Regions from separate parts of the Homo sapiens genome. Here regions 2, 3, 4 and 5 are each linked to region 1. The links come from fine-mapping of genetic effects on gene expression. A gene starts in region 1. Each other region holds a variant in brackets. All regions are shown on one strand. Distances are from middle to middle.

Evidence for each region. PIP is the estimated chance that this variant, and not a neighbour inherited with it, causes the effect.
Region 2: its variant is fine-mapped to the expression of KLHDC10 in whole blood (TOPMed, PIP 0.99).
Region 3: its variant is fine-mapped to the expression of KLHDC10 in whole blood (TOPMed, PIP 0.95).
Region 4: its variant is fine-mapped to the expression of KLHDC10 in lung (TOPMed, PIP above 0.99).
Region 5: its variant is fine-mapped to the expression of KLHDC10 in whole blood (INTERVAL, PIP above 0.99).

The regions. Positions count from the first base shown.
Region 1 is chr7:130,067,696-130,072,827 of GRCh38, reverse strand. It overlaps KLHDC10 (kelch domain containing 10), which reads right to left and starts at 2,294. Exons shown (of 10, transcript NM_014997.4): 1 at 2,019-2,294. The coding sequence starts at 2,184. RefSeq lists a silencer at 2,090-2,259 and enhancers at 2,360-2,549, 2,580-2,779.
Region 2 is chr7:130,881,406-130,886,537 of GRCh38, reverse strand. LINC-PINT (long intergenic non-protein coding RNA, p53 induced transcript) reads left to right here. Exons shown (of 8, transcript NR_170176.1): 7 at 2,142-2,221; 8 at 3,802-5,132. Among named protein-coding and RNA genes, the nearest start is that of MIR29B1, 6.4 kb to the right of the region's middle. RefSeq lists an enhancer at 1-61. The variant T/C (reference allele first, on the strand shown) is at 2,014.
Region 3 is chr7:130,096,067-130,101,066 of GRCh38, reverse strand. It overlaps KLHDC10 (kelch domain containing 10), which reads right to left. Exons shown (of 10, transcript NM_014997.4): 2 at 4,060-4,146. Among named protein-coding and RNA genes, the nearest start is that of KLHDC10, 28 kb to the right of the region's middle. The variant C/T (reference allele first, on the strand shown) is at 2,047.
Region 4 is chr7:130,141,867-130,146,998 of GRCh38, reverse strand. LINC03008 (long intergenic non-protein coding RNA 3008) reads right to left here. Exons shown (of 2, transcript NR_149034.1): 2 at 4,381-4,740. Among named protein-coding and RNA genes, the nearest start is that of LINC03008, 2.7 kb to the right of the region's middle. RefSeq lists an enhancer at 4,707-5,132. The variant C/T (reference allele first, on the strand shown) is at 2,099.
Region 5 is chr7:130,133,932-130,139,063 of GRCh38, reverse strand. It overlaps KLHDC10 (kelch domain containing 10), which reads right to left. Exons shown (of 10, transcript NM_014997.4): 10 at 3,359-5,132. Among named protein-coding and RNA genes, the nearest start is that of LINC03008, 5.2 kb to the left of the region's middle. The variant A/G (reference allele first, on the strand shown) is at 3,080.

The DNA.
Region 1 (5,132 bases):
CCGAGATCGCGACACTGCACTCCAGCCTGGAGGACAGAGTGAGACTCCATCTCAATAAATAAATAAATAAATAAATAAATTTAAAATAAAAGGTTTTATCTCCAAGGCCCGTCAACCAAGCCTAGACATCCTATTCCTCCCCATCACCTAAAATCTTTTAAAATCTATCAAAATGCAAGAAAAGGGAGAGGCTTAAAATGCAATACCTAGCAGAATAAAGAATTGGTATGAAAGAATTTCAAACTACATAATACATTGAGGTATCAGATGTGTCCCAATTTTGAGAATGAGTAAAGGAGCAATGAAGTGTCAGTCAAGAGAAAAGGGAAGCAGAAAAAAGAGACTGATGACCCCGCTTTACAAATTTTCACAGTTTAGACACGTTTATCTTTACCTCCGGATAAATGGCTGTTCTTGGTCTTGTGTGCTAAGGGAATGCAGAAATAGCTCTACACTGAAGCCCCTTAGCAGAAATCATGGCTTCCACTGCCATCACGTGGTTGAAGTGAGGAAGTGCACCAAGCAGGTTCTAGGAACCTAGGAATGCCTACTTGAAGCCCATGGTATAATTAATCCGTGATCAAAGACCTAAAGATTGCGGTAGTAGAGGGCAAACTGGTGACAGTGTTTGCTAAGAGATTCATCTTCTAAGCTGCCAATACACAAAAATCTAAGTTTTTATTATTAATTGGGAGTAAGAAAAAAGATTGCTCCTTTTTTCTTTTTCATGTTAAAGATCGTATATTTAGCAATTCTAGGATGCCCAGTCTGATATTAACGTCTCAAACCCAACTTCTGGTATATTATATGACTACTTACAAATGCCTCGATTTAATGCATATAAATGGGGTAATGTACATTTCTAGCACACATCAACAACCTCATCACGAACATAAGCAATTGTCTCATTAAATGTGCTAAATTCCCTTTGTCATCTTCAATTTAATCAAATAATAATTTTTGACTAGAAGTATAAGGTACAGTCTTAAGCACAATTCATAAAAACCAATTCATCATGTTCTCAAAACTCATCAGCTAAACAAATATATCACTAATATAATCAATATTATTCACAAAAAACACGATGAATAATTAACACATCATTCCTGATAGTTCTTTTCATAGTAAAAATAAGCTTGCCCAGTGGGATATTTGACGTTCTCTGCATTATTTAATTCCCTACCTTCCTTCTACTAGATTGAATATTCAATTACAAACATACCTCTTTAAAATTGTCTACACATACATATCCACTTGATTTTATTTTGTTTTCAAAAGCATCTGAACTCAAGGCTAGGGCACTGTAGACCAAAATGTCAAATAATTGTATTGGGTACATTTTTCCAATTCTCAGTTGTTTTTATATTGTAAACACAGCATAATTGTGTCACTAAGTATATTTTTGATCTTCACTTTCTCCCCTTAAAACCTAGACACCATTATCCTGTCTCTGAACATTCCAAAATATTAATAATCCAACTAGTTTTCCCTAATCCTCTAGGTTCTCTTTCCCATACACTCCCCAGCCAACACTCCCCCACCCCTTTCTTCCGTTTCAGAATGCCTCTTACACACACGCCCCGTGTAGTTTTTACAAAATCACTCCTTGGAATGCGTTTCCTTCTTCTCTCCTTAACTTGGCACCCTTTTTGAAATAATTTCCCACAGCTAGGCGCCAATGTCTTTCATTTACAAGATCAAACTGCGGAAGGGGAAGAGATTGGGAATCGAGTAACCGAAACATTTGGAAATGTCAATGAGACAGTGGCCTCTCCTTTGAAAAGAAAACACAACTCTCAGCACAGAGCTTTCAACAGAGCACAGATACTTTTCTTCGCTGTGCTCCTGTTCCCTCCCTGACCTCAAAGACACCTTCCCTTTTCTCTGATCCCCAGTCCCTCTGCTATGCGTGGGGCCTGCCTTTCCTCCTCCCAAGGAAAAGCAAGCCAGGGAGAAAAAGAAAAGGTAGCAGTCACCTTCCCGCCCGCAAGCGGTCAGGACCCTGTCCCACGACTCACCTGGCAGGTGCGGCCGCCCGGAGAGTTGCACGAAGCGGTTGAGCTGGCCAGTCCCCCGACCCCCGCTGCCCCCACTGCCCCCGCCGGCCCCGCTACCTCCGCCACCAGCGCCGGCGGCGCCTCCTCCCCTCCGGCGGTTCCTGTCCCAGCCCTGGGCGGCCGACATGACCCGCTAACGATTGCCGCAGCCCGGTCCCGTCAGCGCCTGACCCAGCGGAACCAGCGGAGCCTCCTTCCTGGGCTCCTCCAGAGACCCAGGAGACAGGGGAAGGGGGCAGCGCCCGGTCCCACCAGAGACCAATGACTTACCGCCTTGGTGAAAGGCAGCCAATGGTCAGTCGTTTTCTTGGTAGGTGGCGGGAGGCGGAGAGAAACGTGGTAACCATAGCTATGGCTAAAAAAAAAAAAGTAGGGGGAGAGAAAGGCAGAAGCAGCCACTCCTAGCTCTCATCGTCCGCTCTGGGCTGGCCGGCGTCACCCCGACTCCTGCGGGGCCAGGCGGGCCAATCGAAGACCGAGTGTCAGAGGCCGCGCCTGCGGAAAGACTCCCGGGGACGGCCAGTGCCTCAGTCTTGGTTAGGATTCAGGAACTTTTTCCCATAAACATTGCAATCAGACACTGGATATACGCATAATACACATATTTGGGGGCAAGACGGTATTCTGCCAGCTTTTCAGATTGAGATCCCATTCACTGATGGTTGACACACACAAAGGGCTTGCTTGGGGTCCGGGTAGGTGAGGGGACCCAGGGGCGGAGTCAAAGCTAAAATGTAAGAACCAGATATTCCTGGGTTTCATTTGTCTTTCAGTCGGCTTAGCTGCATTTGTCCCTGTATAAGCCACGTCCCAATCAAACAGTTTTAAACCTGGTTAACAAATATGGGAAAATGTTCACTCTCACCTGTAATCTTAGAAATACAAAATAAAACCCCAATGAGAAACCATTTCTGGTTTATTACATCAGTAAAGACTTTTCAAATAACACCTGGCAGTGTGTGGAATGCCAAGAAAAAGGTATTCTCATAGATGGCTGATGGCTCTGTAAATATTTTTGTTCGCTCAAACTCCTTTTGGCTAGTAGAAAATTTTAATCAGCTTGGAAGATATATAATCAAGAGGAAATGTAAAATTAAATAAAAGGCAGCAACGGGTATGGAAGATCAAGATCAAAGAAAATTTTTAATGTGCCGATCAGGAGTTTCTATTGTTCCAAAATTAAACAGAAATTTTGGCTTGAAACTTACTGGGCGCAATGCAGACTGGGAAAACATACTATACACTGATGTTTCTGAATGATAAGGAAAAAGCATATCAAATTCCTCAAGGGAAACAAAACTTTTCAAGGTCCTTAGATGTGACAGATTTTTTTTTCTTTTGCATTAGAAGAACCTTACATGGTTGCAGAGAAAAAAAAGAAACTCTGCTGGAGCTGAGGACAAATACCCTTTGTACCTGGTGTGCAAATTTCTGGTCGCCACTGGCACTGCCTCCTTGTTTTCCTACTTCCAGTCCCTGTAGGCAGAAATGTTTTAGTCACTAGCACCATAGCACGCTGCTTATGAAAATGTTTGAGACTTGAAAAAAAAAAAAGCCTATGGTTCTAAAATATAAAAACCAAAATTAATATATGTTAACTGTTTTTTTTTTTTTTTGAGACGGAGTCTTACTCTGTCGCCGAGACTGGAGTGCAGAGGCATGATCTCGGTTCACTGCAACCTCTGCCTCCCAGGTTCAAACAATTCTCCTGCCTCAGCCTCCCAAGTAGCTGGGATTACAGGCATGTGCCACCACGCTCTGCTAATTATATTTTTAGTAGAGATGGGTTTTCACCATGTTGGTCAGGCTGGTCTCCAACTCCCCATCTCAGGTAATCCACCTGCCTTGGCCTCCCAAAGTGATGGGATTACAGGTGTGAGCTGCTGCGTCTGGCCAGTTTTTTATGTATATAGGCAAAATGCAGTCTTACACATTTTACATGTTTAACCTGTCTAATCCTCACAGAAATCCTATGAAATGCTGTTTTCCCAATTTGCAAAGCAAATTTGTAGAGATAGGGCAGTGTGTGGGGATGAGGGGGTGGTTTTGCCTTGTTGCTCCGGCTAGTCTAGAACTCCTGGCCTCAAGCCATCCTCCTGCCTTGGCCTTCTAAAGCATTGGGTTATAGGCATGAGCACCACGCCCAGCCAAAGTAGATTCTTAAGTAACACTTTTTAATTAATCAACTGGGAGAGATGAAATAAGAAAATAACATATAAAGTTTTGGTTGGGCGCGATGGCTCATGTCTGTAATCCTAACACTTTCTGTAATCCCAACCCTTTGGGAGGCCGAGGTGGGTGGATCACCTGAGGTCAGGGGTTCAAGACCGCCTGGCCAACATGGTGAAACCCGGTCTCTACGAAAAATTCAAAAAAATTAGCCAGGCGTGGTGGTGGGTGCCTGTAATCCCAGCTACTCGGGAGGCTGAGGCACGAGAATTGCTTGAACCCGGGAGGCAGAGGTTGCAGTAAGCCGAGATCGTGCCATTTTCACTCCAGCCTGGGCGACAAAGCAAGACTCCGTCTCAAAAATACATACATACATACATACATACATACATACATACATACATACATACATACAATGGCCGGGTGCGGGGGCTTACGCCTGTAATCCCAGCACTTTGGGAGGCCGAGGGGGGCGGATCACGAGGTCAGGAGAGGGAGACCATCCTGGCTAACACGGTGAAACCCCGTCTCTACTAAAAATATTTAAAAAAAAAAAATTAGTCTGGCGTGGCGGCCCGCGCCTGCAATCCCAGCTACTCTGGAGGCTGAGGCAGGGGAATCGCTTGAACCTGGAAGGCGGAGGTTGCAGTGAGCCAAGATAGCGCCGCGGCACTCCGGCCTGGGCAACAGAGCGAGACTCGTCTCAAAAAAAATAAATAAATAAAAATAAAATAAAATAAAATAACATAACATAACATAAAAAGTTTTAGTAGTCCCAAGATTTGGCTCAGTAGCTATATGGGTAACTGCTATGATTCGAATGTGTCCCCCACAGTTCATGTGTTGGAAACTTAATCCCCAATGCAACAATCTGGAGAAGTGGAACCTTTAAGAATGATTAGTACC
Region 2 (5,132 bases), 810 kb before region 1:
CTTCTGCCCCTAGACTGGAACTGCCAAGGGCTGCTATAGAAGGGACAAACTTCCAGTGCTCACTGAGGAGCCAGGGGTATCCTGGGAAGCTGAAAATGCATTTGTCAAGCTCAGGTCTTCACAATTGAGAAACCCCATCACTAACCCGTACGGTTTTCTTGACCAAAACTTTCAGTGCTCTGTTTTTCCCATCTGTAAATAATGTTCATACATCTAAATCCTAGGAGGTTGCAGGGACAGTGGCTTAGAAAGTCACCACATTCTCTAAAGGAGTGACAGAGAGGATGAAAGAAGCATGCTCTATAATTAGGTTTTATTACATGCTTTTTAAGGTTAATTGAAGGACTTCCCAGCAGCTTCCCTAGCCACTTTTTCAAATACTGAAAGCTTCCAGAAAGCAGCAGACAGGTGTTCCTCACAATCTGACACAGACTTCAGTTACTGTTGAAAAGTGAAAGAGGGCTGGGCGCGGTGGCTCACACCTATAATCCCAACACTTTGGGAGGCCGAGGTGGGCGGATCACCTGAGGTCAGGAGGTCAAGACCAGCGTGGCCAACATGGCAAAACCCCATCTCTACTAAAAATACAAAAATTAGCTGGGTGTAGTGGCACACGCCTAAAACTCCAGCTACTTGGGAGGCTGAGGCATGAGAAAAAATCGCTCGAACCCAGGAGGCGGAGGTTACAATGAGTCAAGATCATGCCACTGCACTCCAGCCTGGGTGACAGAGTGAGACTATCTCACAAAAAAAAAAAAAAAAAGAAAAAAATGAAAGAGCTCCTGTCTGACGTTGGTTTTCTATACCCATTTTTATAATCAGACAATTTTGGAAACATGCTATTATGATAGTGTTTAAATATTCCAGAATTCTGTGTGTTCGGTAGCTTCACGTTGGTTTGATTGTTGTTTTACCCCACTGCCTCTTCCTTCCCATCTGTACTTCTCAGCTTGATTTTTTAGATGTATTTTCTGTTGTAGGACAGTATCAAATGGCTTTTTCTGACCATTTATTTTACTGGCCGAGCTCCTCTTGGATTTTAATCTCAACTCTCAAGAATCTTCCCAACATAATCTGTTCCTGTTGTGATATCATCTTTCTTGAGAGCTTCCCAGTCACTGAAGAGCATGTTCAGTAGCACCTGGCTTAAAGAGTCCACCTGCGAATCACAAATCATTGTCTTCACCATTCAGCTCCGACCCACACATCTGGGCAACATCATCCCCACTGGCCAGTAAGCACGGGGAATGCTCTGTGGCCTCAGCTGTGTTCTGGTTCCTCGGTGGAGCTGTAATCATTAACTTAGAAATTGCAATTGGTGGTAACTTAACAGAGCTTTCTTCATCAGACTGCTGAGTCATGCAGCCTCTTGCTGGGTAAAATGTGTCTTGAGATGTAATCCCCTATAAGGACACCCCCTTGGAGCCACTGTGAAGGCACTCCCAGCTTCCCTAGCAGGTCGCATCAGGGGGACGACTGAAGGATTTACTTGAACAATCAGTTTTCAGAAATGAAGACCCTACGACCTTGGCTTCCTCTCTTGTGATGCAGCTGAAAGATGCATTTCGTCTGTAAAGTTAGACCAGGTAGGAGAGAATGTGAGGTGGTTTCCATTCTTCTCAGTTGCCCTCCACCTGATTCTGAAGCCGTCACAGACCGTCCTTGCAGACCGGCGCTCCCCTCCACAAACCTTCTGCAGCCTGTACTGCTACAGCACGAGGCTGCAGAATCAGTTGTGAAAATAGAAGCCTTCTACCGTCTCCTGTGCGGGATCCTTGCCTGCCTTTCTTCTGTGATGGGATCTATAGGCTTAGACTGTGTTTTATTTCCTAAGACACCTTGCTGAGCAAACCTTGCTGCTCTGCCTCGTGTCAGCGGTTTCCTTAGCAACGGCCACACCTCACGTTTTCTCCCGCACAGAGCACCAGCATGAGGGGGCATGTGTTGCTCACTGTACAGGAACTTTCCCAACCTGTGTGTCTTAAGCAGGAAAGAGAAGGTGCTTTCTATTTC[T/C]TGTTTTTAAAAATGCATCTGTTGGTGACACTGGTGGAGAAACATGTTTACGAGAAAACAACTGACTTTTTCTTCTGCTGTTACTCCAGGAGATTTCCTAGGAGCTCATACTGTCATTTAAATTCCAGGTGCAGGTCTTCTGAACAAATGCCTCCTGAGGATTTCTGTGCCTGGAAAATATCTGTTAACAGACTGCTTTTACACCTACGTAAGTAGAGGCTTCTGCTTATAAGTCAACCTCAAGGGAGTTTTATTTTGTCCCTGGATGATTCCTCAGTACATTTTTCTTTTTCTTTTTTGAGGTAGGGTTTTGCTCTGTTGCCCAGGCTGGAGTACAGTGGTGTGATCACAACTCACTGCGGCCTCAACCTCCCAGGCTCAAGCGATCCTCCCACCTCAGCCTCCCAAGTAGCTGGGACCACAGGCGTGTACCACCCACGCCTGGCTAGTTTTTTAAAATTTCTTTTGTAGAGGCAGAGTCTCCCTGTGTTGCCCTGGTTTCAAACTTGGGCCAAGTGATTCTCTGCCCCAGCCTCTCAAAGTGCTGGGATTACAGGTGTGAGCCACCGTGCCTGACAAGCCTGATATGTTTTTTTAAATGATCATTAGTATTTGATCTCTACTCTTTTTCTCTCAACCACCCAACTCCCGGTTTACGGTCAGGAAGAATCTATAACATGAACTCCTGCTTAAAAACAAGGGTATAGATCCCATATTCAGGTCTTAGACTGGGAAGAAGAGAAGGCAGTCAAAAATATTAAATATATGAATTTCAGTAAATTCAGTTGGGGATGCCATTTCAGCTTTGCAGTCAGTTACTCCAGAATATGTCAATGTATGGCAAAGCATGTGACAGCAGGATCTCTGCACCCTCTCCATTTACCAGCTGTGGTGGATCTCTTAGCCACATCTCTGTTTATAATGTGCTTATTGAAAACTAATGTATTACTTTTATTATCATAGCTACCATTTACTGAATATTTACATTGTGCTAACACTGGTTCAGATGGCTTCATCATATTTACCTGATTTAATCCTCACAACAACCTTATGTGCTAGGTCCAGTTATTACCATCTTTTTTTTTTTTTGAGACGGAGTCTCACTCTGTCGCCAGGCTGGAGTGCAGTGGCGCGATTTCGTCTCACTGCTGCAACCTCCGCCTCCCAGGTTCAAGTGATTCTCCTGCCTCAGCCTCCCAGGTAGCTGGGACTACAGGCACATGCCACCACGCCCAGCTAATTTTTGTATTTTTATAGAGACGAGACTTCACCATGTTGGCCAGGATGATCTCAATCTCTTGACCTCGTGATCCGCCCATCACAGCCTCCAAAAGTGCTGGGATTACAGGCGTGAGCCACCGCACCCGGCCTATTACCCTCATTTTACAGATGAGGAGACTGAGGCACAGAGAGTTAAAGTGATTTGTGCAGGGTTGTGTGAGGAGCTGGTGGCAGAGCTTGGCATTCTGGCTCTGGAGTCTGCATTTGGCCATCTCACCGTACAGTGTCATAGAAACAGGAAACTCGAGAAGATAAACTGCCAGGCTGTATTTTGGAGTCAGTATTTTAACACTGTCACCATCTCAAGCATGATCTGTGGGACTCATCACTGTGCTCTTTGACTTGAACTTCTTTAAGGTTAGTGGGAAAATGAAGCTTTAGAGAAGATGGGACTGGCCTAAGGTCACACTGCATGTCAGAAGTGTGGTGGAGGGTCCAGGTCTTCTGACCATTCAGTGCAAGCCAAATTGTGCTAATTTCCAATTTTTCTCCCTTTCTCTTGGTGAGCTATTTGGTGCTACTTCTACTCCTCATGACCAAAGCTGGCTTTCATGGTTTACTCATGTACTTACTGATGAAACCCTGAGACTTGGGGCCAGTGACTGTTCAGAGGTCCATGTGAAGATGCGCTGAATGGTATAAAGGACAGAGCAGTAAAGAGTGCTGGCTGAATGCCTGGGCTGGCAATCAGGCATGTTGGAGTTTGAGTCCCAGTCTGCCACTCCAGCTCTGTGACCAAGAGGAAGTGAAGTCATGTACCCTTTCTAAGTCTCTAGCCCCTCTTCTGAAAGACGAAGATGCCACCACCAACCATGTTAGTGGTTGTGAATGCCAAGAAAGTCCATGTGAAGCACATAGCATAGTGTCTGCCATGCGTTAAGTGTTCCAAAAATGGAAGCTATGACTATTTCACAGAGTACACTTCCCATCACTTTTCAGTTCATTTTGGCCTTCTCCCTCAAAAGCACTCCAGTGTTCTGATCCAGCTGATAAAACACCAAACATTCACATAGTGCTTTAAAAGTGACCCACTGTTTTTACAGACTGCATTACATATGACCCTAACAACCACTGCAATATAGAAATTCGCATCTCCATTCTCCAGATCAGGATACCGAAGCTCAGAAAAATTAAATGATTTGCCCAGGATCACATAGTTAGTAAGCAGCCCAGCCAGATCCTGTGTTAACTTGTTCATCCGCTTCCTATAAGAAAACATCCATTCAAGGCACATGGGGCAACAAAGAAGGACTTAGAGCTGTGTGGCCCCTCGTCAGGGCAGTACCAGTTGCACCCATAGTCCGGCCTGAATACTCAGCTTAGGACTATTGTGTCCAATGTCCCAAACATTTTGAAGCTACATCTTAAAGAAGTGTCCTGCTCAGATGCAGTTCTCCTTGTGAAATCCGCAGGCCCCAAGGAAAGTGACTTTAATCCAGTTTGCTCATGCAAGAACAGACTGGCATTTCACATCCAGGAAAACAATGGATTTGTACTGTTCAGCTTTTGCCATGCAAGGAGTTCCTGGTGTGGTTTATTAATTTACATCTCAGGCTCCAGCTTCACTATCAATCAGATTTGGAAGAAAAAAGTTACAAAGAAAGGCAGCTTGCTGAGAAACAGCGGAAGCATGACGGTACAGACTGGGTTTTGAAATGGAGACACATTCTCATGGCTTGTGGGCTGAGAGACACTGAGAAAGGATTTTGTTCTTGAAAGATGATTGTTTTAATGCTGGAGATGGAGAGTTTTGACAATTTTAAGTGCATGTTCTGTGTGTAAGAAAGAGTCATTACGTTTTTTTTTTCTTTCAGATGTTGCCATGCCTTAAAATTGCT
Region 3 (5,000 bases), 28 kb before region 1:
CCTGGATTCAGACACAAGTAATCTAGTTTCAAAGTCTCCCTTTTCTGTTTTTTTTGTTTTTTTTTTTTAATTACAATGATTTATTCTTTGTCTTATGTCTGTTTTGTCATTTCCAATGACATCTGAGAAGTAGGGAAAAGTAAATGGGTATGTTAAGTCTGCCATTTTATAATAAAAACCATTGTTTTCATTACGCCATTACTGTTTTCACTACACCACAATTTTAATTGGTAGAAATATGTTTTAGAGAAGATGTAGGACCTAGTGAAGAGGAATCTAGTGACAGAAAATGGGCCCTATGAAACTGTCTACAATCTGAACCAAGAGAGGTGATATAAAGAATTCCAAAATATCAGGCTTCAAAGTGGCTATTTCAAAAGTATAGATAAGTTAAAAACAAACAAACAAGCAAAACCACACAACCTATTGAAGCATTAAACAATAGCATTTTCATGTTCTCAACAATTCATTAGTTCACTGTCACCAATACCAGAGAGAAGTTGAGAACATAATAAAATGTTACTCCCATCCTATTTTCTGACAGTGGCCTTTACAATACTTTAATTCAAGGTCAAATACATATGATATACCTGCTACATGCACTATGCTACAAACTGGAGTAAAGATATGAAAGGCACTGTCCTATTGTCCCTGCCCTTACAGAGCTTACAGTCTAATGGGAGGCACAGACAAGTAAACAACTACAATTCAGTGCAATAAGTGCTATGATATAGGTAGGTACACGGAGGGTGCCATCAGAACAAAGAGGGGAGAGGCCTGCCAAGGAAGTTTCCCTGGAAATACTCTTGGACTGAGTGTTAAAGGATATGCTATTAATGCTATTATTGGTTGTTCTGGAGAGACTAAACTGAATTTATTATCCTTTGCCTAAAATCTACATCTAATTTCACTTCCACTTCCTTATATGTCAAATCAATTCTCTACTTTTTTTTTTTTTAATGAGACAGGGCCTCGCTCTTTCACCCAGGCTGGAATGCAGTGGCATGATTATAGCTCACTGTAGCCTCGAACTCTTAGTTGCAAGCAATCCTCCTGCCTCAGCCTCCCAAGTAGCTGGGACTACAGGCATGCCCCCACCACACCCGGCTAATTGTACATGCGTGCATGTGTGTGTATGTAGACAGACAGGGTTTCACTCTGCTGGATTGCAGGTGTAGGCCACCATGCCCGGCCCCTATTCTCCATTCCTATTACAACTACCCTCATTTCAGTCTCCATCATTTTGCACACTAATAACTATAATAATCTCATAATTAGCCTTTAATTAAATTTCTTCACTAGCTAAAAAACCAAATCTGATCCTGAAAACTCCACTTGGGTGGTGCCCACTTGATCTGGGCCCTCTCCAGCCTCTTTTGTCCACCTCTTTCCCACTGTGCTGAACTTTCTCTACATCTCTAAAAACACCATGTCCTGTTTTGCCTAAATGCCTTTACTCAAGCTGCCTGATCCCCATGGTTTGAGAGGATCCAACCCTCCTTTGCTGACACCTACTCAGCCTTTAAGCACATCCCTTCTGATGTCATCCTCATGGCCACTCCTCTGTCACCCTCCTTCAGCCAAGTTGAGTCAGATACCTCTCCTGTGTGCTCCCATAGCATGCTACCTCATCAGAACACTTACCACAAATAATTATACTCAAATTATTCTGTAATTGTCTGTTTACCTGATTCTCTATTACTTAGATCATCAGGCTAGCACAGTACATAGGAAGCAATCAAGAAATACTGAAAGAATGAAAGAATGAACGAACGAACAAACGAAGAGACTTAAGCCTGTGAAAGTTGATGAGACAACTAAAGGAGATAATGGAGAGGACAGAACACTGGAACAATATCCACCTTGAGGGAGCAGGAAGAAAGAAGCTAGTGAAGGAAACAGAATGAACAATCAAAGAGGTAGGAAGAAAACATCTAGAACTATACAGTAAAGCAACCCAAAAAAAGAGAAAAATTTAAGAAGGGCAAGTAGTCAACAGCCTCAAACACTACAAAGAGGTTAAAGAAGGTGAGAACTAAAAGAAGG[C/T]CACTAGTGATCCTGATGTTGCTGATGCTGAGTTAACTCCCACCTCAATTCCAGCACTGCCAGGGGCCACCTTTCTCAACCACTGATTGAGGCTATTGAGGGCTTACAAATAACCAATGGTATAAAACTTACCTGTGCAATCTTTTTTCTCCACAATCAAAAAATTGAAAAACAAACACCATACAAAAGAAAATAAAATCCCCATCATACAGATACAACCTGTTATGTCACTATTTGTTTTTTATGTTTATGTGTTTTATATCATTATTATGTTGAATTATATATCCTAAACAATTCCTTAATTATGCTTATATTTAGTATGTATAATTAATTATATTAATATAACTAAAATGAAGTTTAATTTATGCTTTATTCAGCACAAGTTAGATTTCTCATTGGAAATTGGTAAATTGGCATTCTAACTTATAAATAGAAAAAAGAAAAAATGCTATAGAATTAGACATGCCTGCTTGGCCATGTGTGTACAATGGATAATACTAAAATCATCTAATTTTTTTTCTTTTTTTTGGAGAAAAGTCTCACTCTATCGCCCAGGCTGGAATGCAGTGGCACAATCATGGCTCACTGCAACCTCTGCCTCCTGGGTTCAAGTGATCCTCCCATCTCAGCCTCCCATGTAGCTGCGACTATAAGTGTGTACCACCATGCCCAGCTAATTTTTGTATTTTTTACAGAGACAGGGTTTCACCGTGTTGTCCTGGCTGGTCTTGAACTCCTGGGCTCAAGCAATCTGCCCACCTTGGCCTCCCAAAGAGCTGGGATTACAGGTATGAGCCACCCAGCCTGGTCCTTAATTCTTACTAACAAAATTTACTCATGCTAAAAGGTGGTACACCATCTTGAGGATCTTATCTTGACCCATTTTATGGTTGATTTTATGCATGCTCTGGAGCTCAGGTGACAAAAATAGGTTAGGAACTAGATATAGAAACATCTATAGCAGTTGCAGGATTTTTTCCTAGGTTAAAAAAAAAAAAACTCCAGTTAAAATTAGATACACTGGGTTGTAAATAATTTAATACAGTCTAAATTACAACATTAAGTATGCTTGTGTGATAATTTGTTGTATCTAGAAAAATAGTGTGAACCAGAGTTTTCAACCCTCTTTTGAGATTTTCTTTTTTCAGTATGGAGTATGTATTAGTAGAAAAAATAAAAAGTAGAAGGAATGCAACATTTCTAAAAGTAAAAACTGCTAGGTCAAAGGGTATGAATATTTCTAAGGTTTTTAATACATATTACCAAACTGGTTTCAGAAAAGCTGTATAAAATTTATACTTCCTTCAATATATGAGCTTTATCTTCCCATACCCTTGCCAACATTGGGTATTCTTATTTTTGGTCTTTGCTCATCTAATAGGTAAAAACATCTTATTGTTTTAATTGTTGTGTTTATAATAATAGTAAAAATAAATACTTGTTCATAATTATTGGCACTTCTTTTTAACAAACTGGTAATTCTATATCCTTTTACCTATTTTTCTAGTGGGCATTTGTTTTTAACCTATTGGTTTATAAGAACTCTTTATATATTCATATTACCCCTTTGTTAACAAATAATTCTCTTTTTTATCTTTTAATATATGACATTTGACATAAGAGGTTTTTTATTTTATACCATTACATAATCTTTTATTTCTTCCTTAGAATCATATTTAGAAAATTCTTTCCCACATCCATATTTTATAGATTATTCACTCAAAATTCTTTCTAATATGGCTACTGTGGAATACCATTTATATCAGTGAGATGATTTATCTCTACCATCTAATAATACACTAAGTGATTCTGACTCCCTGAAACTTACAATTACAATCCCAATAGTGGCCAACAAGAAACAGGTTTAAAATTAAGTTCTAGATTTTTCTTATTCCAACTGTTTCATTAGCTGTTTAGATGATTTTTAAAAACCAGAGTTTTGAGCTTAGAAAATTCATTCAAAGTTCCCTTTAACCCATACGAAGCACAGATCTCTTGCTAATTATCACCCACCTCTCAAAAACCTGTTAGGGATCCTTATGATGGGACAGGACTGAATGAAGCGCCTCCTAACTGGGTCCCATCGTATTTTCTTCTTACCTGTTACCACAATTATCAGCAATAAGTCAGACACATACAACACATTGCAAATAATACATAGTTACTGTAGTTATAAAGACAGAAAAACAGGAAACAAAACAATACTTGAATACAGAAAGAAAGTGACGTAAAGTAGCATTTAACCCTGTTTTGGAAGTCAAAATTAAATTAACATATAAGCAGTGATGAAGGTTTTCAACTCTTACCCCCAAAAGAATACAATTTTGTGCACCGTTTTTGGGAATTCTGGTTCAATAGCATGTGCACTCAATAATCACCAATGCCATCTTGTGGCAAAAATTCACCAGGAGCTTTATGAACAGATTAGAAACGATGACATTTTTAAGTCAGTTAATTTCAAAATGGAGCTCTGAAACTAATTGGACATAACAGAGGCTCCTGTTCTCTTCAAGGTTATATTAATTATATGGTTAAGAAGATAAAGCAATGGGCACCATTCTTTAAATACGAAATAAGCTGACTCTACTATAATTAAATTTTAAAACAGCAACCAAATTAAACAAACATTTAATATCTTGGCACTTCCATGGGGGAAGGGAGGGAAGGGGCTCATCTGCCTTCCCAGGAAGCAAATTACCTCCATGTTAACCCCAATTAAAATATGTTTTCTTATAAAATAGAATAAAAACCTAATTAAATTAATGGAACTATTATGGGGTAATTATCTCTTTTCCCAAAGTTTTGATCGCTCCCAAATATAGCTCTTATTGACAATAAAAACAATTAACACTTGCATAATGTTTAGGGTTTACAAAGAGCTTTCACATATATTACCTCATATAATTCTCACAACAATCCTGTATTGATTCAACAATCATTTTATTAAGCATCTG
Region 4 (5,132 bases), 74 kb before region 1:
CATGTGTCGCCAGAGTCCACTCTACTTTGCTGGCTTGTTCTCTTTAGGGCAGGCTGTCCTCAGGCAGAGGTCACAGGGCTCCTGTCAGCTCCAGGCTCAGAGCCTTAGGTCAGCAACCCCAGGAGAAAGAATGTGAGTCTTTTTTCTTTAGGTCTCGCTCATGTCACCCAGGCTGGAGTGCAGTGGAGTGATCTTGGCTCACTGCAGCCTTGACCTCTCAGACTCAAGTGATTCTCCCACCTCAGCCTCCCAAGTAGCTGGGACTATAGGAGTGCACCACCAGGCCCAGCAAACTCTTTTGTATTTTTTTTATAGAGATGGGGTATCGCCATGTTACCCAGGCTGGCTCTGAACTCCTGGGCTCAAGTGATCCACCAGCATGTCTCCCCTAAGTGCTGAGTGTGAGCCACTGTGCCCTCTTTCAGTTCTTTAGGAAAAAGTATAGTGGGCAGGGTGCAGTGGCTCATGTCTGTAATCTCTGCACTTTGGGAGGCCAATTTGGGCAGATTACCAGAGATCAGGAGTTCAAGATCAGCTTGACCAACATGGTGAAACCCCGTCTATACTAAAAATACAAAAAAAAAAAAAAAAAAAAAAGAAGAAGAAAAAAAAATTAGCCAGGCATGGTGGCAGGCACCTGTAATCCCAGCTACACGGGAGGCTGAGGCAGGACAATCGCTTGAACCCAGGAGGGGGAGGTTGCAGTGAGCCGAGATCGCACCACTGCACTCCATCCTGGGTGACAGAGCAAGACTCTGTCTCAATAAAAAAAAAAGAAAAAAAAAAAGAAAGAAAAAGAAAAAAGGAAAGAAAAGAAAGAAAAAGAAATAGTGAGTAACATAGAGAATATGCTTGTTCCTACTGAGGTGTGTCATTATCTTCACATTCTGCCCCGAGCCTGTGTATAAAAAAAGTTTAGAGAAACATAGGAACATTAAGAACAAAGACACTCAAGTCGACTCTTTCCACGAGGCCCCACTGTGTGAGTTTCCTAGGGCTACAAAAACAAAGTATCGCACACTGAGTGGCTCAACCAAGAGAGATGTATTATTTCACAGTTCTGGGGCCTGGCCTTTGAGGTAAAAGTGCCAGCAGAGTCAGCTTCCTCTGAAGGCTGTGAGGGAGAATCTGCCACGCTTCTCTCCTGGTTCTGGTGGTCTAGTGGCAAGCCTTGGTATTTCTCAGCTTATAGACAGACGTGTCAGCCAGATCTCTGCCTTCATCTTCACGTGGTATTCTGTGTGTGTGTCTTGGTTCAAATTTCCCCTTCTCATAGGGATACCAGTCGTACTAGATTAAGGCCCATTCTAATAACCTCATTTTGTTTTTGTTTTTTTGAGACAGAGTCTTGCTCTGTTGCCCAGGCTGGAGTGCAGTGGCACAATCTCAGCTCACTGCAACCTCTGCCTCCTGGGTTCAAGCGATTCTCCTGCCTCACCCTCCCAAGTGGCAGGGATTACAGGCGCACACCACCACGCCCAGCTAATTATTGTATTTTCAGCACAAACGGGTTTTCGCCATGTTGGCCAGGTTGGTCTCGAACTCCTGACCTCAGGTGATCCGCCCACCTTGGCCTCCCAAAGTGCGGGGATTATAGGCGTGAACCTCATTTTAATTTACCTCTGTAGAGACCCTATTTCCAAATAAGGTTACATTCTGAGGTTCTGTAGGCTAGGATTCCAACATATATTTTTTTGGGGGGGATGGGAGGGACACAATTCAATCCATAGCATCCACTAAGGACACAGCCCTGCCCTGCCATGTGGCAGCTGATTGGAGTGGTGTTGCTATGAAACAGGGAGGGCTGCGTTTATAACCAGCCCAGGCATTGATTATATTCCACCTCGGAGCACCCATGGGTAATTTCACAAGCAGGCTGCAATTCACACCTGGATCTCCCATTAGAGCAACCTGTCAGTGGCTTGCTTGGTTAGACACATTTTCCAGGTGACACAGGACAATTCAACACGTGGCAGGTCAGCTTTCGCTCTGTGGGTACAGACAAGCCCCCAGCAGTCACGTCCCAAGGCTCTCCGGGAGACCTGGGTGTACCAAGAGCTTTTCACTTTCTGGTTTTGTCTCTGTGCCAATGAGCCCA[C/T]GCCTGACATTCCACCGGTGTAATTCCAAGAAGAATTCTCTCAAGATCAATTGCCCAACACATACTTACTGTCTGACACAGCCATTTGTATTCCTTTTAGAGTCCTTTCTTGCATTGCTGACTTCAAGAAAGCAAATTAATTATTTGAGACACCGCTATTAAATTGACACAGTGATTAATCTGATAATCCTTTTTATGAAATTACCTCTGAAATGCTAACTTTTCATCTTTTGAAACTCACTGCGTAAATTACTCTGAAGATTACATTGTACCAGCTTTCAGCTCTGTAAATCTTAATGGCAGTTTTTCGCCAAAAGCAATAAAAGCTGTCCTGAATTTATCAGGTGAATCAGGAAAGAGGCAGGCGGGCAGGAAATTGAAGGTGACTCCCTTTGCAAGTGGGGGTTTCAATGGATGGACTTTGAAACCTGTTGTTGCTGGTTACACACAGCGAGGAACAGGAAGCAGACAGGAGCATGGAGCCCCCGGTGCAGGTGTCAGGGCTGCCTGTCTGAGAGAAGGGCTAGTGTGGTTCTAAGAGGGTCTTCTCCCCTCTTTCCTCTCCCCCAACCCCTCCCAGTGCGCTGCCAGGCTGAGCCCATCGGTAGTGGTGGAGGCCTCCAGCACATCCCACTTGGGCTGAACCCACAGAGAGCTGCCTCATTGCCACTGCCCCTGCACAATCCCCAAAAGTCTTTGGTGTGGGGTAGGGGCAGGGAGCACACCTGGGCTATTGCCCTCCACCCTGCTTTTCCTAGCGGGCAGAGTCTTGGCCTCAGGATGAATTTAATTTCTCCAATTGTGCTAGCAGTTGTCATGTAGAAGGACTCTTTTTTTTTTTTTCTATTTGTCACCCACTCTGTCACCCAGTCTGAAGTGCAGTGGCCCGATCTCAGCTCACTGCAACCTCCACATCCCGGGTTCAAGTGATTCTCCTGCCTTAGCCTCCCAAGTAGCTGGAATTACAGGCAAGTGCCACCACGCCTGGCTATTTTTTTTTTTGTAGTTTTGATAGAGATAGGGTTTTGTCATGTTGGCCAGGCTGGTCTTGAACTCCTGACCTCCAGTGATCCGCCCACCTTGGCCTCCCAAAGTGCTGGGATTACAGGCATGAGCCACCTCACCTGGTCGATGTGGAAGGACTCTTAAAGCCTGGCTGGGGCTACGGGCCTGGTGGCAGTAACAGCATCCACCTTCGTTATCTTTTTAAGGCCAGTCTGTTTTTCTTTTTAGTTGTAACCTCTGTGCCTCACATCGTGTGCTTCACCAGGAGTGTGTTATGCCACTCTGCCAGCCTCTTCTAAGGCCGCAGCACACTTCCCACTTGTTGGAAGGGGAACTGGGGAAGGACACAGCCTACTGACCCCATGGCCCCATTTATCCCCCCATCCACCCCTCCATCTGACAGCGTACACTGAGCATCTACTATGTGCTAGGCTCTAAAGAATACAGACAGAACAAGAACAAGGCAGAGACGTTTCCAGTCCTCATGGCACTTCCATTCCAATGGAGAAAGTCTGGCAATAAACAAGGTGTGTACTAAACAAGATGGTGTTCCATTCTTTGGGAAGAGGACAGGGAGTGGAGAGTCCTGAGCAGAGGGGAAGACTATACAGTTTTAACCAGAGAGGGCAGGAAAGCCCTTGCTGCCTCACTCGCCTCACCCTAGCCCTGGCTCTGCCTCATTGAGAAGACCACATTAAAAAACTGAAGGAGGCCAGGCACACAGCCATGTGGATACTGGAGGAGGAGACCTCCAGAAAGAGGGAGCACGCTTGACCGCTCAAGGAGCAGCAAGGAAGCCACCGTGGCTGGTCGAGAGTGAGCAAAGGCACAGTGGTAGGAGTTGAGGCCAGAGAAGTTTGGACTGTGCGGGCCCTGGAGAGAGCTGGGTAAATGGGACATTTCAGGGTGTTCTGCAGGCAAAAGCAGGCCCTCCCACCCTCAGTTCTGTTCTGTCTCCGGGCAGTCCACAAGCACCTGAGGGCCCACGTGAGGAGAAGAGGCCTGGGTTTTCCGGGCCTGGAAGCTCCACTGCCAGAAGCATTCGCCCCCTGGCCCAGACAAACCAAGGTCAGAAGGCACCTCCACCCAGGTTTCCACAGGCGTCCCTGCTGCTGCTTCACTGGGCTGAAGCTACCCACGTTCACTCAGCTTTGCCAGGGCAGGATGCTTACTCCCTACAACCTCCCTCTGTGCCGTTTTTCTCCTATCCCTGGGCACGCAGGTGAAAGCTAAATGAGGAGAGACCCGCCCCACACCTGAGTGGCCAGGCTGACTCCTGTGGTGGAACGAGTTTTTAATAAAACCAGAAGAGCTTCCCAATTCCACGCCTCGCTGCAGTCTCTTCACCTTGCTCCAGAGGAAAGACCCAGAGTATGGCAGGGCTGCGGTTAGCGAGGGCTTTGGTCAGCAGCTGGAGAGTGCCGTAGTGACATGGTGACAGTCCTCGGCCCCCAGGAGGGGCGGAGGCCACCCCTCTGGGACCCCCAGCCCTAGAATCCCATGCAGGAGTGACTCTGCTGTCCCATCACACTCACAGCTGCAGCAAGGATGCCTTTCCAGCAGTCACACTCCCACGCAGGGGTCAGCCTTCCTCCCAGGGGGAGCAGGGTGGAGCGGGAGCTGGTCCTCCCAGCATACTGCAGGCGGACAACAGTGGCCTGTTTCAGGTGACACCTGTCTTTGGGCCCAGGTCCCACTTCTGTGGTTGTCCCCAGGCTGAGCTGCCCCCTGGAAGGGTTTTCTGGAAAGGACCAGAGAGGTGTGGATTTCGGAATCTCTGAGAGCTCTGGCACCTCTGTTTTCTGCTCCCTGGGTTGAGTGGCCAGAAGAGCCTGTGTGCTTGCATTTTCGGTATGACCCCTGGCCCTTATGTGTCTCTGTGTCCCCAGGCCCCTGCTCAATTCTCCACTTCACCGAGGGTGCCTGACCCCTCTCCTTTTCCCTCCATCCCCCCACTTCTGAACGCACCCCACCGTGTGCATGGGAGGGTCCTTCCTCCCTGTGGCTTTTCCGGGGAGCCTTTTCTTCT
Region 5 (5,132 bases), 66 kb before region 1:
CTACAGAAGGTTCTGCTTTAGGAAGGCGGAAAAAGTAAAAAAAAAACAAAAAATCAGGATCACACTCAAAAACCAGCAGTCACTGCCACAGCCCCTCTGTGTCGTCACCTGTCTTACTACCATGAGCTCTTGCAGCTGTTTTTTTTTTTGGATACTCACCTTTTTTTTTTTTTTTTTTTTGAGATGGAGTCTTGCTCTGTCACCCAGGCTGGAGTGCAATGGCACTATCTCAGCTCACTGCAACCTTCGCCTCCCAGGTTCAAGCAATTCTCCTGCCTCAACCTCCCCAGTAGCTGGGATTACAGCCACCCACCACCATGCCCGGCTAACTTTTGTATTTTTAGTAGAGATGGGGTTTCGCCATGTTGGCCAAGCTGGTCTCAAACTCCTGACCTCAGGTGATCTGCCCATCTCAGCCTCTCAAAGTGCTGGGATCACAGGCGTGAGCCACCATGTCTGGCCTGATATCCACCATTACTCTCTAATTTACACGTGTACCTGGCTGTTGCTTCAATCTGAGACATTCTGTTTATCCCCTTCCTGCTATGGAGAGCAGGACTCAGCTCACTTGCATCACCACCCTCCCTCCCTCGTCCTACATTTAGTTTCTTCTTTATTGGTTAACTTTGTAATTTTTAGTAAATTTTTTTTTTTTTTAGTTGGAGTTTCGCTCTTGTTGCCCAGGCTGGAGTGCAATGGTGTGATCTTGACTCACTGCAACCTCTGCCTCCTGGGTTCAAACTATTCTTCTGCCTCAGCCTCCCAAGTAGCTGGGATTACAGGCGTGCGCCACCACGCCCGGCTAATTTTGTATTTTCAGTAGAGACGGGATTTCTCCATGTTGGTCAGGCTGGTCTCGAACTCCTGACCTCAGGTGGTCGGCCTACCTCAGCCTCCCAAAGTGCTGGGATTACAGGCGTGAGCCACCATGCCCAGCCTTCAGTTTTATTTCTTATTCCATCAACTAGAGAGCAATCACAGTGAATATCTCCATAATGCTTACTATATGCCAGGCGTCATTTGAAGTACCTTACCCATATCTACTTATTTCAGCCACACAGTATGAAATAAGTAGCTAGTATGGAGAGAGGTTACTACTGTTAGCCCCATTTCAGAGAAAAGGAAACTAGGGCCATTTTGTTATTATTTTAGTGGTTCTCCAAGAAGGAGCGGAGAATACCTGTGTACTCGGTCTGCCACTGAGTTCTAATGGGCAAGGATTGGGAAATGTTCATTCTGGCCTTTGCAGTGAAGTCTCCTGCTGGACAATGAAATATGACAATAAAAAGTAAGGTAACAAAATCTCTCATCTTGGCCGGCACTGGCCAGTTAGCTCAGCTGTGGGTCAGGGGTTCCCAAATGTCTTAAACCAGCTGAATTGGAATCAATGAAAGAGTTTATTAAAATTACACACTTATTAAAATATAATCCTTGGGGTTTGGGCCCAGGAATCTGTATTGTTAACAAGTATGGATCATGGTTTTGAAACCAGTGGGTTACAGGTGGCTTGGCAGTGGCCGTGTTCTAGTCCCTACTCCATTTTCAATACTTTTTCTTGGAGCCTGCACTATGCAAGTGGAAATCCTGACTGTGCCACTCACTAAGGAACCACCTGGAGCGGGCAGCAGACCTCCCACCACGGTGGGATCAGTGATCTTAAGATCAGGATCGAGTTTAAGAGGTAACTCCAGTCCTAGCACTGCACACCTATGGTACTCACCATTATGCTGCAGCCTTTTTTGGCCAAACATCCTAAATAATGTTAGATCTTGGGGATTATCTAGCCAACCTCCTCCTATTTGACAGATAAGTAAACCAAGACCCAAAGAAAAGCAAGTTGCATACAGAACAGGGCTATTATGGACTGAGCCAAGAGCAGAGCCCTTGTCTCCTAACCCCCAGGTCATCTCTTCCTAGAATTGCACTAAGAGGTAGCCACTAGCCATGTGTGGTTATTTCCCTATAAATACATGAAAATTAAATCAAATTAAAAATTCAGTTTCTCAGCCATACTAGCCACATTTGAAGTACTCAAAAGCCCCATGTGGCTTGTGGCTACCACCATATTGGGTGGTGCAGATACAGAACATTTCCACCATTGCAGAAAGCTTTATTGCTCTAGCACTGGGCTAGAACCTGGCCTTTCATTTGAAGGCAGTAGGGAAACTGGATGGTTTTACCAATGTTTTCTTCCCTCAAGCAATTACTGCAGAAGATTAACTACAAGAGAATGTGGTTGTTGTTAAAGTAGCTTAACAACATCATTTTAACAAACTAGAATTATATACACATAAACTGGAAGAACAAAACCACGCAAACCAACTAGGCCACTGAAACTCCTCCCACTAGGCCAAGATGGGTCTTAGATGCCTTATCTAAGAACCAAATCAGATGCACATAAGAGTCCATTTCAAAGCTCTGGCTGGTCTGAAGACTGAAAGGTATAGGGTGCATTTCTTATATCTGGTAGCTTGGAGAGGAGTATAGTTAGGAGAAATAAACCCAAGGAAAGAAGACTGCTCTGCATAATAAAGTATTAACTGTAAGGTGGATGAATGGGTAGAAATTGTTTCTCTTCTTCCTTGTAGATGTATATTGTAATATCTAAGATTATTTGTCCATGGAAGGTGTGTTTGATCCAATAGTTAACCAATGGAAACACTGAAAAATACAAGGCATCTGTTCAGTTCTAGAAGGGAGACCTTAAAAGTGACCAGACTTGGGAGTATCCTTCCCTACCTACTCTGGACTACACAGACATGGAGAAAAGCACTGCATGGAGAAGGATTAGAGGATTAGAGATCACAGCATCATAAAACAGAGGTTTGTTTTGGTGAGGGAAGCATCTGGAAGACCAAGGGCAGAGCTAGGAAGTGTAGTTTCACCCCCAGAGGACCCCTGCACAGGGCTCAGCAGCTCCTGGGGCTCTTCCCTCAGATCATAAAGACAGTCAGATGACTATATATACGGGTTCACATTTTCCCTTTGAATTCTCTGTAGCTCTTCCAACCCTTCAGAAAAGTCTTGATATACCTATACAAACTTGTCTAGCAGTGGTTTGGGGAACATGGGGTGGGGC[A/G]GTGAGAGGGAGTGTGGGCTGCCCGACAGTTGCTCCCTTGCTGATGTCTTTGTGGAGGGAGCAGTGTGCTGGTGAGGGAACTCTTGTGTGTCCAGGAGTTCCAGATAATGAGCAGATAAAGAACCCACAGTGGAGTGGGGGTGGAAGGCAGATGACTCACAGATATTACAGAGAAAAGCTGAGCCTGGTGGAGGTGGGTAGGACTGACGCTTCTGTCATATAGGTGCGCTCACGTACACACAAATTACCATTAGACAATCAAGGTGAACTTGAACCAAATTGATTTGGATAAGATTTATTGATCAGATTGTTTTAGAAAACCAACAGCAAAACACTGACAAGGTACATAAATACAGATTGGACATTTTAGGGTAAATTCACTGTATTTCCTACTTGCTTGTAGGAAACCGAGTAAAGTGGAAAAGCTGTCCTGATCATATGGCATGCACACCAGACTGCAAAAGGACGTCCACACTATTTAACAGGACTGTGGCAAAATAGCTTTAAAGTAAGGCGAGCATTGTGTATGGCCCAAGCATACCCTGTAGGAAGAGCAAAGCTAGGCTCACCTCTCAGAGACTGTGTCTCAGAAAGAGGCTTCCTTTCTTGCCTAGGTTCTTCCATGAAATTCGTCATTGGCAGGTGCTTTTCCAGGGAGATGCCTGTGCTCTCCCTGTGCAGACTCTGTGCACAAGGAAGTGGCTTTAGAGAGTGTGTTTTCTGATGCCTCCTTTATATTCTAAATGTATAACTAGTAAAACAACAATTACTACCGCTTGGTGAAATTGTTTTTTGTTTTTTTCTGAAAACTGCCTCTGACTCCACCCTGTACACTGACTAAGCAGGGCCCTTAAAAAACTTATAAAAAGTTGTTTTTTTTTTTTTTTTTTTTTCAAATTAAAAACATGAAAATTACACCAAAAAGATGGAACTACTTTTGTAGCACAACTCAGAACTTCTGTTCGTAACACCGGACTAGAGAAGAGGTCGCTTTTGGCTGAATCTAATGACCTTAGAAGGGAAAGGCCATTGCTGGGCAGGATCTGGTGGCAACGCACACGGAAGTCCTAGAACTCTATGAAGCCTACCTCAGGCCCTGCGGGTGCGTCTGGAGTTCCAAGGCATTTGGGGAACCAAAGCAATTTCAGCTAACAGTGACCAGTTTTTAGAATGGAGCTTATGATCAGAGGACCATAAACCCTCATCCACCCTAGAGCTCAATGCCAGAAAAATAAAAAATAATACAAAAAATAAAGGAAAATAGCTTTTTGTGCTATATCAGAATGCTGGCAGGTAGACAATTCAGTAACCTGTGCCACTTTCTAAACATCTGTAAGACCACAAAAAAAAAATGGGTTTTACAGAATACGAAGACCAACACAGTCTTAGAGGATCATTCAACCTTTCCTACATGCCAAGCTGTGTGATTGGAAAATAGAAGAGCCATAGCTCTTGCAAGATTAGAGGAAAAGCAAGTATTTGTCAAGAGCCAAAGAAATGTGTTCAAATAATGGAGTTTCCTCTGTGTCGCACACAGCTTTTCCTTCCCGTAGGTACTAAGAGTTCTTTGGTGGTTAGAGAGATGGCCTGGAGCTCAGGGCAGGAGATGACGCTGAAGAGCTACATCTACTCAGGATTACCACCTGTGGTTCCTAATTTCAGCATTCAACTCTAATTGTTCAGCCTGACTAATTACAGGCAATCAGCTGCTTATATGGTCACTGGTTGTCAGCTCCTACTGATTATTCCTTTTCCTTTTCTACCTACTCATTAACCCCATTCCATGGAAAAACAGGTGCTTACAGGAAAGGATAGGGAGGAAAAAGAAATGTAAATGAATCTATTGTTTGGTAGGAAAGTTGATTCACTGATTATCTATGGATTTCAATGATCTGTGCTTTACTCTTGCTACTGTGGATAACCAAAGGTCACTGTTAACGTATCTTTTGCTTAAAAATGTTAATATGCTTATTATGCTTTAAAATCTAGCTATTTAAGGGCATGAATGGTTTAAAGCAAATTTTTACATCATGTCATTATGGCCCTGAAAAAA